Regions from separate parts of the Homo sapiens genome. Here region 1 is linked to region 2. The links come from fine-mapping of genetic effects on gene expression. A gene starts in region 2. The other region holds a variant in brackets. All regions are shown on one strand. Distances are between the middles of the regions. Region 1 overlaps LOC107985634 (a long non-coding RNA gene). Region 2 holds the start of LINC03113 (long intergenic non-protein coding RNA 3113).

The links. PIP is the estimated chance that this variant, and not a neighbour inherited with it, causes the effect. A credible set is the group of variants that fine-mapping cannot tell apart.
Region 1: its variant is the best candidate, but not a certain one, in a credible set for the expression of LINC03113 in aorta (GTEx, PIP 0.72).

Annotation. Positions count from the first base shown.
Region 1 is chrX:9,409,785-9,415,173 of GRCh38, reverse strand. LOC107985634 (a long non-coding RNA gene) reads left to right here. Exons shown (of 4, transcript XR_001755795.1): 3 at 433-627; 4 at 716-5,389. It also overlaps the pseudogene LOC442443. Among named protein-coding and RNA genes, the nearest start is that of TBL1X, 53 kb to the left of the region's middle. RefSeq lists a silencer at 514-719. The variant G/T (reference allele first, on the strand shown) is at 2,663.
Region 2 is chrX:8,501,460-8,506,848 of GRCh38, reverse strand. It overlaps LINC03113 (long intergenic non-protein coding RNA 3113), which reads left to right and starts at 2,285. Exons shown (of 5, transcript XR_001755793.2): 1 at 2,285-2,567.

The DNA of each region.
Region 1 (5,389 bases), 910 kb before region 2:
CTCCTCAGTGAATGTTTCATCAGAAGTATTTGTTGTAGAAGCTAAGTCTTATTTTTGATTTGGAATTTCCCGAATCTGAGGTATCGGTACCTACTTGGAGAAAAAGCCAATGCCTCAGATGACTCTGTGTCTCTATGTAGGACAGGGGAGGTGAGGCGGGCTAATACCCCTTTAGATTCTCTGTTCTAGAAGGAAAACATGACCAAAACAAACATTATTTCAGATTTTTCTGTCACCAAAATCAATAAAACACACTTCTGGTTTTATACAGTACTAGCCAAAGACAAGAGAAATTAGAGCTTCTAAGAGCAATCCTGTGATCACCATTAAACTGTTATAGTTGTGTGTATATGACTATAAAATACTGATGCTTAGACAGAAAAGCATTGTAGTATTTCATTTTATTTTAAGTGATTTTATTTTATTTTAAAGCTACAGTACTTTCAAACTACTCGATAATACATAGCGTGGATTTTCCGAGTCCTGCTTCCACACGTGAGCTACCAGCGAGCATGACTCAGGCTGTGACAATGGATAAGGACAGCTGGAAGCAATGGTGTTCTTCTCAGCCGGAACCCGGTGCGGTCAGTGTGCAGCCTGACACTCGAAACTCATTCATCTTCCTGTGTAAGTACTTTCACATGGAGTCCAACCCTTGAGCAGAGCCCCAGATTTTCTGCAGTACTTCACATGTTCTCTCGTTGGCCTGTTCCAGATCCCTCTTCATGTTGCAGCACACCAAGGCTTTGGATTCCTTCAGCACTATTCGATTACATGAGACAAGCTTCTTGATCTGAGCCACCAATTTCCTGAGTGAAGGTCCAGGACTCAAACAGCTGGGAGAGAAGGCCGTTGCCAAATGCCTCCTGAGTGATCAGTTTCAACCCACTGAGCATCGTCTCGCTTGCAGCTGGTCGTCCCATGATTTCGGAAACGTAATGGTAGATCAGCTATCTGGGATCTGCTCAGAGGTAGAAGAGGGTGTTGGAAACCAAGTCTTTTCATTAGCCTAAACCATATCACAAAGAGGCAATACGGATGCTCCTAGTCGAATGGCTGGGCAGCTGACTGGTTTAGTAATAGACAGCTTAAGTTAAATGATAGCATTCACAAAGTTCCTTCCATTCAACTATGAAACAGGCCCCTACCTGGGCCCAATCTCCTCTACTCTGTACTTCAGAGGCCAGACGAGATTGGGAGCGTTCACGGTGGTATGGCTGTAGATTGTTCACGATGTTTCTGGTAGCTTTTGCCCTTTTAATGCTTGCTCTCTTTCTGTCCTCTGTCAAACGTTGTAAAACATAAATAAGGTCAAGTGCGCCACAGAAGACCCTACCTAAGGCCCTGAGCAGTACAAGGTTGTTGTACTTTCTGGAGTTCAATGATCGCATTCACGAAGTTCCTTCCATCCAATACCCTCTTCTACCTCCAGGAACATTCCAGATACCTGACCTAGCATTACATTTCCGAAATAATGGGACGATTTATCCAGAGTACTCCCGAATAAATAGCGTGAATGTTCTCGGTCCTGCTTGCAAGCATAAGCTACCAGTGAGCTTGTTTCAGGCTGTGAGAATGGATAAGGACAGCCGGAAGCAATGGTGTTCTTCTCAGCTGGAACCCGATGTGGTCAGTGTGCAGCCTGACACTCGAAACTCATTCATCTTCCTTTCTAAGTCCTTTCACATGGAGTCCAACCCTTGGGCAGAACCCCAGATTTTCTTCAGTACTTCACATGTTCTCTCGTTGGCCTGTTCCAGATCCCTCTTCATGTTGCAGCACACCAAGGCTTTGGATTCCTCCAGCACTATTCGATTACATGAGACAAGCTTCTTGATCTGAGCCACCAATTTCCTGATTGAAGGTCCAGGATCCAAACAGCTGGGAGAGAAGGCCGTTGCCAAATGCCTCCTGTGTGATCAGTTTCAACCCACTGAGCATCGTCTCGCTTGCAGCTGGTCGTCCCATGATTTCGGAAACGTAATGGTAGATCAGCTATCTGGAATCTGCCCAGAGGTAGAAGAGGGTGTTGGAAACCAAGTCTTTTCATTAGCCAAAACCATATCACAAAGAGGCAATATGGGTGCTCCTAGTCGAACGGCTGGGCTGTTGACTGCTTTAGTAATAGACAGCTTAAGTTAAATGATAGCATTCACAAAGTTCCTTCCATCCAACTATGAAACAGGCCCCTACCTGGGCCCAATCTCCTCTACTCTGTACATCAGAGGCCAGACGAGATTGGGAGCGTTCACAGTGGTATGGGTGTAGGTTGTTCACGATGTTTCTGGTAGCTTTTGCCCTTTTAATGCTTGTTCTCTTTCTGTCCTCTGACAAACGTTGTAAAACATAAATAAGGTCAAGTGCACCACAGAAGACCCTACCTAAGGCCCTGAGCAGTACAAGGTTGGTGTACTTTCTGGAGTTCAATGATCGCATTCATGAAGTTCCTTCCATCCAATACCCTCTTCTACCTCCAGGAAGATTCCAGATACCTGACCTAGCATTACATTTCCGAAATAATGGGACGATTTATCCAGAGTACTCCCGAATAAATAGCGTGAATGTTCCTAGTCCTGCTTGGAAGCATAAGCTACCAGTGAGCTTGTCTCAGGCTGTGAGAATGGATAAGGACAGGTGGAAGCAATGGTGTTCTTCTCAGCCG[G/T]AACCCCGTGTGGTCAGTGTGCAGCCTGACACTCGAAACTCGTTCATCTTCCTTTCTAAGTCCTTTCACATGGAGTCCAACCCTCGGGCAGAACCCCAGATTTTCTTCAGTACTTCACATGTTCTCTCGTTGGCCTGTTCCAGATCCCTCTTCATGTTGCAGCACACCAAGGCTTTGGATTCCTCCAGCAATATTCGATTACATGAGACAAGCTTCTTGATCTGAGCCACCAATTTCCTGAGTGAAGGTCCAGGATCCAAACAGCTGGGAGAGAAGGCCGTTGCCAAATGCCTCCTGAGTGATCAGTTTCAACCCACTGAGCATCGTCTCACTTGCAGCTGGTCGTCCCATGATTTCGGAAACGTAATGGTAGATCAGCTATCTGGAATCTGCCCAGAGGTAGAAGAGGGTGTTGGAAACCAAGTCTTTTCATTAGCCTAAACCATATCACAAAGAGGCAATACGGATGCTCCTAGTCGAATGGCTGGGCCATTGAGTGCTTCAACAATACGCAGCTTAAGCTGAACAATAGCATTCAGGAAGTTCCTTCTATCCAACAATGAAACAGGCCCGAACCTGGACCCAATCGCATCTACTCTGTACTTCAGAGACCAGACAAGATTGGGAGCGTTCACGGTGGTATGACTGTAGATTGTTCACGACGTTTCCAGTAGCTTCTGCCGTTTTAATGCTTGCTCTCTCTCTGTCCTCTGTCAAATGTCGTAAAAAATAAATAAGGCCAAGTGCACCACGGAAGACCGTACCAATGGCGCTGAGCAGTCCAAGGTTGCTGTACTTTCTGGAGTCAGTACTCCCGAATAAATAGCGTGAATGTTCCCAGTCCTGCTTGCAAGCATAAGCTACCAGTGAGCTTGTCTCAGGCTGTGAGAATGGATAAGGACAGATGGAAGCAATGGTGTTCTTCTCAGCCGGAACCCGATGTGGTCAGTGTGCAGCCTGACACTCGAAACTCGTTCATCTTCCTTTCTAAGTCCTTTCACATGGAGTCCAACCCTTGGGCAGAACCCCAGATTTTCTTCAGTACTTCACATGTTCTCTCGTTGGCCTGTTCCAGATCCGTCTTCATGTTGCAGCACACCAAGGCTTTGGATTCCTCCAGCACTATTCGATTACATGAGACAAGCTTCTTGATCTGAGCCACCAATTTCCTGAGTGAAGGTCCAGGATCCAAACAGCTGGGAGAGAAGGCCGTTGCCAAATGCCTCCTGAGTGATCAGTTTCAACCCACTGAGCATCGTCTCACTTGCAGCTGGTCGTCCCATGATTTCGGAAACGTAATGGTAGATCAGCTATCTGGAATCTGCCCAGAGGTAGAAGAGGGTGTTGGAAACCAAGTCTTTTCATTAGCCTAAACCATATCACAAAGAGGCAATACGGATGCTCCTAGTCGAATGGCTGGGCGGCTGACTGGTTTAGTAATAGACAGCTTAAGTTAAATGATAGCATTCACAAAGTTCCTTCCATCCAACTATGAAACAGGCCCCTACCTGGGCCCAATCTCCTCTACTCTGTACTTCAGAGGCCAGACGAGATTGGGAGCGTTCACGGTGGTATGGCTGTAGATTGTTCACGATGTTTCTGGTAGCTTTTGCCCTTTTAATGCTTGCTCTCTTTCTGTCCTCTGTCAAACGTTGTAAAACATAAATAAGGTCAAGTGCGCCACAGAAGACCCTACCTAAGGCCCCGAGCAGTACAAGCTTGGTGTACTTTCTGGAGTTCAATGATCGCATTCACGAAGTTCCTTCCATCCAATACGCTCTTCTACCTCCAGGAAGATTCCAGATACCTGACCTAGCATTACATTTCCGAAATAATGGAACGATTTATCCAGAGTACTCCCGAATAAATAGCGTGAATGTTCCCGGTCCTGCTTACAAGCATAAGCTACCAGTGAGCTTGTTTCAGGCTGTGAGAATGGATAAGGACACCCGGAAGGAATGGTGTTCTTCTCAGCTGGAACCCGATGTGGTCACTGTGCAGCCTGACACTCGAAACTCGTTCATCTTCCTTTCTAAATCCTTTCACATGGAGTCCAACCCTTGGGCAGAACCCCAGATTTTCTTCAGTACTTCACATGTTCTCTCGTTGGCCTGTTCCAGATCCCTCTTCATGTTGCAGCACACCAAGGCTTTGGATTCCTCCAGCACTATTCGATTACATGAGACAAGCTTCTTGATCTGAGCCACCAATTTCCTGAGTGAAGGTCCAGGATCCAAACAGCTGGGAGAGAAAGCCGTTGCCAAATGCCTCCTGTGTGATCAGTTTCAACCCACTGAGCATCGTCTCGCTTGCAGCTGGTCGTCCCATGATTTCGGAAACGTAATGGTAGATCAGCTATCTGGAATCTGCCCAGAGGTAGAAGAGGGTGTTGGAAACCAAGTCTTTTCATTAGCCTAAACCATATCACAAAGAGGCAATACGGATGCTCCTAGTCGAATGGCTGGGCCATTGAGTGCTTCAACAATACACAGCTTAAGCGGAACAAAGCATTCAGAAAGTTCCTTCTATCCAACAATGAAACAGGCCCGAACCTGGGCCCAATCGCATCTACTCTGTACTTCAGAGACCAGACAAGATTGGGAGCGTTCACGGTGGTATGACTGTAGATTGCTCACGACGTTTCCAGTAGCTTCTGCCGTTTTAATGCTTGCTCTCTCTCTGCCCTCTGTCAAATGTCGTAAAAAATAAATAAGGCCAAGTACACCA
Region 2 (5,389 bases):
ATATCTTATGTTATGTTATGTTATGATTAATGTCTTATGTCTCCCTAAAATGTACAAAACCAAGTTGTAGCCTTGTTGTACAAAACCAAGTTGACCACCTTGGGCACATGTTCTCAGGACCTCCTGAGGGCTGTGTCATGGGACACTGATTGCTCATATTTGGCTCAGGATAAATCTCTTCAAATATTTTACAGAGTTTGACTTTTTTTTTTCAACAATTGCTTTATGAAGTATCCTGATGTTGTTATAGCAAGTTCACATGAATACTAGAATTGCTAGATGTCAGCTGAAACTGGCTGGTATCAAGGAAGCATTCTTAGACTCTAAGAACATGTCTGTTATACAGATCTTGTGGTTTCCATTCAAACATGAAAAAATATTTAATCAAATGAAGATCTTTTAGTACATTTGCTGTGTGAAAAGTGTGGATGCATTTTCTAAGCATGGTTATTTTCCCTTTTTTTAAGGAATCAAAGTATAACTGTGATCCTTTGTGCAAATATATAGTTTATTTGAAATCTTTTGGACAACTAGGTTTTAATACAAAACAAAGGCATTTTCAAATTTTGCATTATGGATGGGCATGGAGACTCACACCTCTAATCCCAGGACTTGGGGAGGCCAAGGTGGGCAGATCACTTCAGGTCAGGAGTTCAAGACAAGCCTGGCCAACATGGCAAAACCTCATCTCTGATAATACAAAAATTAGCCATGCATGGTGTGTCACGTGCCTGTAGTCCCAGTTACTTGGGAGGCTTAGGCAAGAGAATCTCTTCAGCCTGGGAGATGGAGGTTGCAGTGAGCCTCGATTGCACCACTGTGCTCCAGCATGGGCGACAGAGTGAAGCTGTGTCTCAAAAATACAATAAAAATAAAAATAAAATAAAATTTCGCAGTATTAGGGAGTTTTTTATTTACACTTGTATTCTTTTTCATCTCAAACTGTATTAATCATTTATGTCAAAGCAGAATTATGTAAGTCAGAAAAGGCATATGGAATTGTATGGAGTAGATTTGAGGGAGAACAAATATTACAATGAGTTATAAAAAGATGTCTAAAATTTCTGAGATATTTTAATTAGCAGCTAGAGAAACAGTGATGGGGAAGAGTGAAGTCAGAATCTTCCACTCCCATCGCTAATCAGCTGTTGCTATTGTACACAATACAGTTGAACATTAATAAAACCTCCATTCGTGTTTCAGCAGATGCCACGTGACATCTGTCAGAGCTGGTATTTGCTTTGCAGTGTTTCTTGCAGTCTTTTTGGCTTCTGTTTCTTGCAGTCTTTTTAGCTTCATGGGTATACCTTTAAAACATTGTATTAAAAAAGTATATTTTCAATGAGTACTTCATGCAGGTATTTAACTGTCTGGCAAAGATAACTGTGATCTTTTTATTAAAAATCTAATTTCCCTTATGTGAAACAATCAAGTATTGAGAAGTTCTCCACAGCCATGCAAAGGGCAACTGGGTTTCCTAGGGTTACATTATGTCTATGGAATATTTCAGGAAGAAGGAATTATTGTGTGGCTATTAAAAATAGTAACTTAAAAATATGGACATTGGTTAAAGTTTCATATGGGTTAGAGTTTTCAAAATAATTGATCAGAAATTTATATGTCTGTGTGCATTTTTGATATATCACACTAACAGGCTGGAAACAACAGGCTTTGCTGATGTACAAAATCCAGAATAATATCTTAAGAAAGCCCTTTTGTCACAGAAAATGTAACAGATCAGGGATTTAATTTAAAGTTATCTCCAGTAAGAGAGGAGTATTTTTCACCTCCTTGGGATGCATGAAATTGCAAAGAATTGAGAGAAACTGCAGTTCAGAGTGAGAAGGATAGAGTTTGCAATTCCAGAGGGAAAATTTATTATCAAGGTTTCCCGAATCACATCATCTCATGGTCAATGCCAAATAATAAGTAGATGCAATAAATATTTCCTTAAAAAACAATAATCATGTTGACAAAAATGAATATTAATGAAACATAAATTACAATTTCTAAATCAGCTCTAACGACAAAAGAAAAGTGCAACTTTTCATGAGGATTAAGGAAAGACAATGAAAAAGGGTTGCAGTCTGACTAACCTCCACATAACCCCGGGGAATGATGTCTGGAGTTTCATGGACTGACTCAACCATCAGTTATGTGTGCAACTTTCTGCTTTCCTCTAGCAACTGGACAAGAGAAGTAGAAATTCGCCTGCCCATTGACGTTGCAGCTATAAACACAGAAGAGTAGTGTATAAAAGCAGCAACAAGAGTGAGAGCATCTTAATAATGCCTCGCAGAAGTTTATGGGGCTGCCCTCTTTGAGACACATGGTCAGTTGCCTTAGTTTTCTCGACATTCCATGCTTATCTATCAACTTCCCAGAAGTATAATATTTTAAGTAGAAATAGTTCAGTCCTGGTGAGCTATTCTGGGAGAAAGAGGACAAGCTGCTTGTTCTCAGTGCAATGCACCCTCTTGCTTCTCTGTCGTGGCCCCATGGTCGTCTAGGTGTGGGAACGAGGGAAATAAGAAAGGGTTACATTTTGCTTACTGAACACCAGCAAGGTAAGCACTTTTCCATTTTCTAGCTATGTTAACATTGACCTGGGAAGTGAGACAGAGTATTCATGTTGCTCTCTTTCATTACATTCTTTGTATCAAAAGATTTTGCTTGGAATTGTATTAAATTAATAGGTTACATGACTGTTTCTCATCCCCCCCAACAAGGAATATTTTATATTTCTTCATTCATTCAGGATGTGGCTTTGTCCTTCACTGTGAGCACAAAGTTCCTGGAAATATATGTTTATACACACACAAACACGATTGACTAAGAAAAGAAAAAACATATATAGGTGTGTATATAATCTATGTATATTAAAATCTATTTTATTAGTTATTCTGTAGTTTTAGCTGCTATTATGAATAAAAATATAATCTAATTTTAAAATTTATTCTATTGGCATAAAATGCAAGACAATTTTGACATATACAGCTTTTATCATTCATTTTACTACTCTGCCTCACTAATTCTTAAGTACCTTTAATTGTTTTTTCAATTTTCTAGATATTTAGTGTCAACATCTGCAAACTAAACATTGTTGTAGCTTTAAAATATATGTTAATAATTTAACAATTGCTTTAGCTTTCTGGTTTATCAAGAATCTTCAAAGCCATGTTAAGTAAGAGTGGTACTGGTGTTCATTCTGTATTTTTCCCTTGATTTTTAAAAGAAATATATAATTGCTTTTTTCTTTCCAATGATATTTGCTGTTAAGTAATGGTCATGTTCTTCTACTCTTATCTTACCTAGAGATTTTTTAGGAATAGCCTCACATTTTTAGGCAATTTACCAAATGCCTTTCCATCATCACCTCCCATGAATATAAACAGATGGTTTTCTCCTTTAATTTAATAAAATAAATGATCTTAAGCCATTCATTCATGCTTTCATCCAATATTAAAAATATTGGTCATTATCTTGAATATAGTAGAATCTATCGAGTTGTAATTTAGAATGTTTGCACCTAATCATGCACAATAAGCATATAGAATTATCCTACAATTTTTTCCACTATTTTCCACTCATCTTAGCAAGTTATAGCTTAAAAGTTACACTAACATCATGAAATCGGGCAATTTTCCAGCTTTTTCTTTAGCCTAGAAAAGTTTATGTTACATAGAAATGATTTGTTCTTTAAAGCTCAAGTAGAACACAACTGTGAAACCATCTGGGTCTGATGTATATTATTTTTTAACCTGGCGTCTCTTTAATTACCTTTTCAACACCTTCCTTTATTTGTAGATTCAGTTTTCTGCCTCTTTGGGAAGCCAGTTAGAATATTTTTGCAAGAAACTAGCCACTCGCTTCAGAATTCTCATATTTATTGCCATAGAAGTACATAGACTATGCACTTATAATCTTTCTTTTTTTTTTTTTTTTTTTTTTAGTATTTATTGATCATTCTTGGGTGTTTCTCGGAGAGGGTGATGTGGCAGGGTCATAGGATAATAGTGGAGAGAAGGTCAGCAGATAAACAAGTGAACAAAGGTCTCTGGTTTTCCTAGGCAGAGGACCCTGGGGCCTTCCGCAGTGTTTGTGTCCCTGGGTACTTGAGATTAGGGAGTGGTGATGACTCTTAAGGAGCATGCTGCCTTCAAGCATCTGTTTAACAAAGCACATCTTGCACTGCCCTTAATCCATTTAACCCTGAGTGGACACAGCACATGTTTCAGAGAGCACGGGGTTGGGGGTAAGGTTATAGATTAACAGCATCCCAAGGCAGAAGAATTTTTCTTAGTACAGAACAAAATGGAGTCTCCTATGTCTACTTCTTTCTATATAGACACAGTAACAATCTGTTCTCTCTTTCTTTTCCCCACATTTCCCCCTTTTCTTTTCGACAAAACCGCCATCGTCATCATGGCCCATTCTCGATGGTCGCTGTCTCTTCGGAGCTGTTGGGTACACCTCCCAGACGGGGCGGCGGGGCAGAGGTGCTCCTCACTTCCCAGACGGGGCGGCCGGGCAGAGGCACTCACTTCCTAGACGGGGTGGCCGGGCAGAGGCGCTCCCCACCTCCCAGACGGGGCGGCCAGGCAGAGGCGCTCCTTACCTCCCAGACGGGGTGTCGGCCGGCACTTATAATGTTTCTTTTAATCTCTTAAATCTGTGATTTTATTGCCTTTTTATTCATAATCTCATTCATTTCTTTGTGCCATCTTATTTTTTCTCAATCTAATATGCTAGTACTTTTTCTGTTTTATAGTTATTTTCAGAGAAATGATGTTTGGATATATTTCTGTTGGCTACTATTTATACTATTTTAGTAATTTCCGTTTTTATCTTTATTCTCTTTTATTTTACTATTTTAATTGTTTTTTCTAGTTTCTTATATTGAATAATTATTTCATTTATGTTCAGCCTTTTTTCATTTTAATAATGAAAGCTTGTGAATATAAACAGGTTTATCATAGATTTTGGCATACAGAATTAGCCTTTTCATTACTTCCTAGATAACTGACATATCTGTTATGATGTTCCCTTTGATCTGAATATTGTTTAATACCATGTTTTTATTAAATTTACAAGTAGATCACTCAATTTACAAATGATTGGGTTTTTGAGGTCATTTTGTATTGTTGATACCAAGCTTTCATTGTTTATGAAAGTGTTTTGTAAAATCTGGACATTTTACTTTATAGGATTTTGTTTTGGTTAAGTCACAGCCAGCATGTGTATAAATACATGCACACAAACATGTATCCATAAATACAAATGCAGGTCGGGCACAGTGGCTCATGCCTGTAATCCTAGCACTTTGGGAGGCTGAGGCAGGAGGATCATTTGAGGTCAGGAGTTTGAGACCAGCCTGGCCAACATGGTG